2 separate regions of the Homo sapiens genome follow, and region 1 is linked to region 2. The links come from fine-mapping of genetic effects on gene expression. A gene starts in region 2. The other region holds a variant in brackets. All regions are shown on one strand. Distances are between the middles of the regions. Region 1 has its middle 9.5 kb from the start of PRSS36. Region 2 holds the start of PRSS8 (serine protease 8).

What was found. PIP is the estimated chance that this variant, and not a neighbour inherited with it, causes the effect.
Region 1: its variant is fine-mapped to the expression of PRSS8 in nasal epithelium (TOPMed, PIP 0.92).

What each region holds. Positions count from the first base shown.
Region 1 is chr16:31,158,107-31,161,011 of GRCh38, forward strand. No RefSeq gene overlaps it. Among named protein-coding and RNA genes, the nearest start is that of PRSS36, 9.5 kb to the left of the region's middle. The variant C/T (reference allele first, on the strand shown) is at 1,747.
Region 2 is chr16:31,134,550-31,137,454 of GRCh38, forward strand. PRSS8 (serine protease 8) reads right to left here and starts at 1,178. Exons shown (of 6, transcript NM_002773.5): 1 at 865-1,178; 2 at 605-622. The coding sequence starts at 949. RefSeq lists an enhancer at 1-239.

The DNA.
Region 1 (2,905 bases), 24 kb after region 2:
AAGCACGTGTCACTCCTTTTGGAGTGCCTGCTAAAATACAGAATACTTAGCTCAGTCTGAATTTGAGATAAACGATTTTTTTTTTTTTTACTATAACTAGGTCTCAGGAAATACTTGAGTTATATTGAAAATTATTTGTCGGGCCAAGTGAAGTGGCTCACACCTGTAATCCCAGCACTTTGGGAGGCTGAGGCAGGTGGACTGCTTGAGCTCAGGAGTTTAAGATCAGCCTGGGCAATATAGTGAGACCCCATCTCTACAAAGAGTTTTTTAAAAAATTAGCTGGATGTGGGCCAGGCGTGGTGGCTCAAGCCTGTGGTCCCAGCACTTTGGGAGGCTGAGGCGGGCGGATCACGAGGTCAGGAGATTGAGACCATCCTGGCTAACACAGTGAAACCCCGTCTCTGCTAAAAAGAAAATACAAAAAAATTAGCCGGGCATGGTGGCGGGCACCTGTAGTCCCAGTTACTCGGGAGGCTGAGGCAGGAGAATGTCGCGAACCCAGGAGGCAGAGCTTGCAGTGAGCTGAGATAGCGCCCCTGCATTCCAGCCTGGGTGACAGAGCGAGACTCCGTCTCAAAAAAAAAAAAAAATAGCTGGATGTGGTGGTGTGCACTTGGGAGCTACTTGGGAGGCTGAGGTGGGAGGATGGCTTGAGCCCAGGAGGCAGAGGTTGCAGTGAGCCATGCCACTGCACTCCTGCCTGGGCAACAGAACCAGACCCTATCTCAAAAAAAAATTATTTGTGTTTCCAATAGGCACAGGGCTCACGTCTGTAATCCCAGTGGTCTGGGAGGCTGAGGCAGGAGGATCACTTGAGACCAGGAGTTCGAAACTGCAGTGAGCTATGATTGCACCATTGCATTCCAGCCTGGGTGACAGAGCAAGACCCTGTCTTAAAAAAAAATTATTTGTGTTTACCTGAAATTCAGATTTAATCGGGCACTTATTTTATTTGCTAAATCTGGTTGGGAGTGGTGGCTCATGCCTATAATCCCAGCACTTCAGGAGGCTGAGGTGTGAGGATTACTTGAGTCTAGGAGTTCGAGACCAGCCTGGGCAACGTAACATAGACCCCGTTTGTACAAAATTTTTTTGTAAAATAAAAAAGGAGTAAAATAAAATTTTTTGCTAAACCTGGCAACCCTGTTCCCTATTCCATAATATTATCTTGCTAAGTCACTATATTGTTGCATATCTGCTTGGAAGAAATAACTTTTTTTTTTTTTGAGACGGAGTTTTGCTCTTGTTGCCCAGGCTAGAGTGCAATGGCACGATCTTGGCTCACTGCAACCTCCACCTCCTGGGTTCAAGTGATTTTCCTGCCTCAGCCTCCCCAGTAGCTGGGATTACAGGTGTATACCACCACTCCCAGCTAATTTTGTATTTTTACAATTTTGTATTCTGGAGTATTTTAAATACGATAGAGTATTGTATTTTAAATACAAAATTGTATTTTACAATTTTGTATTTTAGAGACGGGGTTTCACCCTGTTGGCCAGGCTGGTCTTGAACTCCTGACCTCAGGAGATCTGCCCGCCTTGGCCTCCCAAAGTGTTGGGATTACAAACATGAGCCACTTCGCCTGGCCAGAAATAACTTGTTCTCAGAAAAAACTTGGAGTTAGAATGTTATTCTATGAGGGACCCTCTGAGTGGGAATATTTGAGAGACTTGATAAAATTGGGAACATGTTGTGTGTTGACTCCACGCTTGACTGATATGATCAAGACATCCCCTTGGTGCT[C/T]CCTCTCGTGGCAAGAAGAGTAACTGCTCCTTCAATTTCACTCCCAGACTCTGCCCCCACCTCCCCACCCACCTCTTGGTCTCCAGGGACCATGCTGGTACCCTGAGCCTGTCGGAGCCAGAGATTGCCCCAGGACTCAGCGCTTTAGCCTCAAATGAGTTGCCCTACTTCAAAGGGACCTCACTTTGTGAGATGCACTGTATAGAATTTTTTTTTTTTTTTGAGATGGAGTCTCGCTGTGTCGCCCAGGCTGGAGTGCAATGGCATGATCTCAGCTCACCGCAACCTCTGCCTCCCGGGTTCAAGTGATTCTTGCCCCAGCCTCCCGAGTAGCTGGGATTACAGGCATGTGCCACCACGCCCAGCTAATTTTGTATTTTTTAGCAGAGACAGGGGTTCTCCATGTTGGCCAGGTTGGTCTCGAACTCCCAACCTCAGGTGATCCGCCCACCTTGGCCTCCCAAAGCGCTGGGATTACAGGTGTGAGCCACCGTGCCTGGCCCTAATTTTTGTATTTTTAGTAGAGACGGGGTTTCACTATGTTGGCCAGGCTGGTCTTGAACTATTGAGCTCAGGTTATCCACCTGCCTCAGCCTCCCAAAGTGCTGGGATGACAGGCATGAGCCACCGTGCCTGGCCATTGTATGCAATTTGGAGGGTGGTTCCTGAGACACAGAGAGAACAATCCGAGTTGGAGTCTGAGGAGGTGGCAGCTCATTGCTGGGAGAGAGACGTCCTCCTGCTTCTGAGGGGAGCAGTTTTGGGGTGCTCCTGCATAAACTGTATGGGGTCCGGGAGAGCTCTTGGGGGCAAGAGAGGAGGTCAGGATGGGATGGGGGTGAGGGCGAGGTTTTTGAGTCATGGCTGGAGGCAACAAGGCTTATGGCCCTGACTTGGAGGCCTGAGCACAGCGAGCTTTCTGAACCCCTCTGGAAAACAAAGGAGGTGGGGTGTTGCAGGACCTCAGGTACTCAAGCTGAGCAGCCATTTCTCCTGCAGGTTGTTTGTATTTTCTGAATTCTGAACATCTGAAACGAGAATGCGTATGAGAGGGGAAGCTGTTTAGATAATGAAAACCCATTGAGATTAGTTTAATCAAACACACAGGGACACGGACAGGCGTGGTGGCTCACGCCTGTAATCCCAACAGTTTGGGAGG
Region 2 (2,905 bases):
CCTCCAGGATGGGAACGGTGGCTCACACCTGTAATCCCAGCACTTTGAGAGGCCAAGGCAGGAGGATCGCTTGAGCCCAGGAGTTCAAGACCTGCCCGGCCAACATAGTGAGACCCACATCTCTACCAAACAAAAACAAAAACAAAAACAAAACACAACTAGCTGGGTGTGATGGCATGCACCTGTAGTCCCAGCCACTAGGGAGGCTGAGGTGGGGAGGTGGGAGGATCACGTGAGCCCGGGAGGCTGGATCACTGAGACTGCAGTGAGCTGCGATCGGGCCACTGCACTCCAGCCTGGGTGACGACAGACCCAGACCCTGTTTCAAAAGACAAAAACCAAACCAAAAAAACCACCTCGATTGCCCCACTTTGGGAGTCAGACGTGGATCTGAATCCCAGCTGCACCTTCACTGGCAGTGTGCCCTGGGCAAGTCCCTGCTTCTCTGCCCATAAGGTGAGGGCTAAAACCCCCCACTCTGGGAGCCCTAAGAGAATCTAGTTGGAAGGCAGCCCAGCTGAAGGCCAGGCACTGGTTAAACCCCAGGGGAATCCGATCCAAGTCACCTCCCCCTCCCCTCCTCCCTCTCCGAGGAAAGTCTCACCTTCTGCCCCTTCCGCTCCTAGAAAGAAAGAGAAAGAGGAGGGGTGAGTAGGGAAGACTCGGGTTCCCTGACCCCTTAGTACCCACCACTGCTCCAGAGGGCTGGCCCCTTCCCTGACAGAGCCAAGGTGGGAAAGAGAGGCCAAGAGCTAGGGAGGCCGGGGGTTTTCTTGGGCCCCAGACAAGGGCACACCCCAGAAAATGATCACGCCGGCTCCCTCCAGTGCATTGTCCCCACCCTGCCCCCACGTCCTCACTTACCTGTCCCCGACCGGAGTAATCCAAGATAGAGCAGAATGGCCACAGCCCCCAGCTGCCCAGGCCCCAGGACCCCCTTCTGGGCCATGGCCCAGGACAAGGGCCCCTGGGGCAGACTCCAGGCACGCAAGGTAGGAAGCCTTGGGGTGGTGTCGAAGGCAGGACCCAGATGTTGGCTCAGAGGGAAGGATCCCAGAATCCGGGCTGGAAAGGGGCAGCAAGTGTCCAAGGCTGGCCTCTAAGGCAGGGAGCGGCCGCAACGGGAGACGCCTGGAGTATCCGAAGCGAGCAGTGTGGACGAGTCACCAGCACCGTCTGGCCACGCAGGGTCCTCCCAGGAGTGGCTGCACCTACCTGCCCGCCCCTCCCCTGGCCCCGCCCACTGGCTGGGCTCCGCCAGCTCCTCTTGCCACCAAAGTCATGAGTCCTTTCAGAGCTGCAGGCCCGTGTGTGTGCATGTATGTGTCCGTGTGTATGTGTGTGCACATGCATAGGCCTTTTGTGTGTGTGTCCCGGTGTGTAGTGTGTATGTGGTGTGTGTGTATGCCTGTGTAGGCTGTGTGTGTCCTCTTATGTGGTGTGGTATGTGTGTGTGTGTGCATGTACAGGCTGTATGTGCACATGTGTAGGCTGTGTGTGTCCCTGTGTGTGTAGTGTGTGTGTCTGAGTGTGCGTGCATGCACGTGCATGTGGTTTGTGTGTGTGTGCAGTCTCCCTGGAATGTGACGACTCTCCTCCGCCTCAGGTCTTTCAGGTTATCTCAGGCCAGTTATGCCCCCCAGGGCCTGGCCCCAGCTTTTATTATCTGGAGCCACAGCCACTCCTCCCTTCTTCCCTCCCTCCTTAGGCTGGTTATGGGAGCTTAAGACACTATGGTCTGTCCCCTGCCAGGCCCTTTCTGCGATGCCTGCACCTCATGGGTGGTGGCGAGCTTGTGGAGCAGCACCAATCATCCCACAGACATTTCCTAAGTGCCTATGATGTTCCCAGGTGTCCAGGACAAAACAGGCACCAGCCCCGTCCCCCTTGAGCCCTGAGCTCATGGTGAAGTAGGGGTGACACACTTCAATCAAATAATCACAAACAGGCTGGCAAGGTGGCTAGTCGGCTTTGGGAGGCTGAGGCTGGAGCATCACTTGAAGCCAGGAGTTCCAGACCAGCCTGGGGAATATAGCGAGGCCTCATCTCTACAAAGAAATATAAAAATTAGGCAGGCATTGTGGCGCATGCCTATGGTTCCAGCTATTTGGGAGGCTGAGGCAGGAGGATTGCTTGAGCCCAGGAGTTCAACGAAGCATTGAGCTATGATCACGCCACTGCACTCCAGCCTGGGCAACAGAGGGAGACCCTGTCTTAAAAAAAAAAATTGCAATTACACAATAATTTCAAGCTAGGAATAGTGATGAAAAAGAATGGCGTGAGCACACCACAGCCTGGCAAAGGCTGGCATTGTGAAAGGGTCCTCGAGGAATTGCCTTGGAAACTGAGACCGAAAGGGATTATAAAAGGTGGTAAGGCGAAGATGGGGGGATGGGGTGCAGAGGGCAGAGGCTCAGGGAAAGAAGGCTTGCCGTGTGGCTGCGGTGGGAGTGAGGCATGTATCCTCCTTGAGGGCCACTCTGGCCGTTCAAAACACCTGTTGAGGCTGGGTGTGGTGGCTCACGCCTCTAATCTCGGCACTTTGGGAGGCCAAGGCACACGAATCACGAGGTCAGGAGTTTGAGACCATCCTGAACAACATGGTGAAACCCCATTTCTACTAAAAATACAAAAATTAGCCAGGCGTGGTAGCACGCACCTGTAATTCCAGCTACTCAGGAGGCTGAGGCAGGAGAATCGCTTGAACCCAGGAGGTGGAGGTTGCAGTGAGCCGAGATATTGCGCCATTGCACTCCAGCCTGAGCGACAGAGCGAGACTCCGTCTCAAAAAACAAACAAACAAAAAAAATTGTGGAGCTTGGATGTGGTGGCTCACACCTATAATCCCAGCACTTTGTGAGGCCAAGGTGGGAGGATCATTCTCAAGATCAGGAGTTTGAGACCA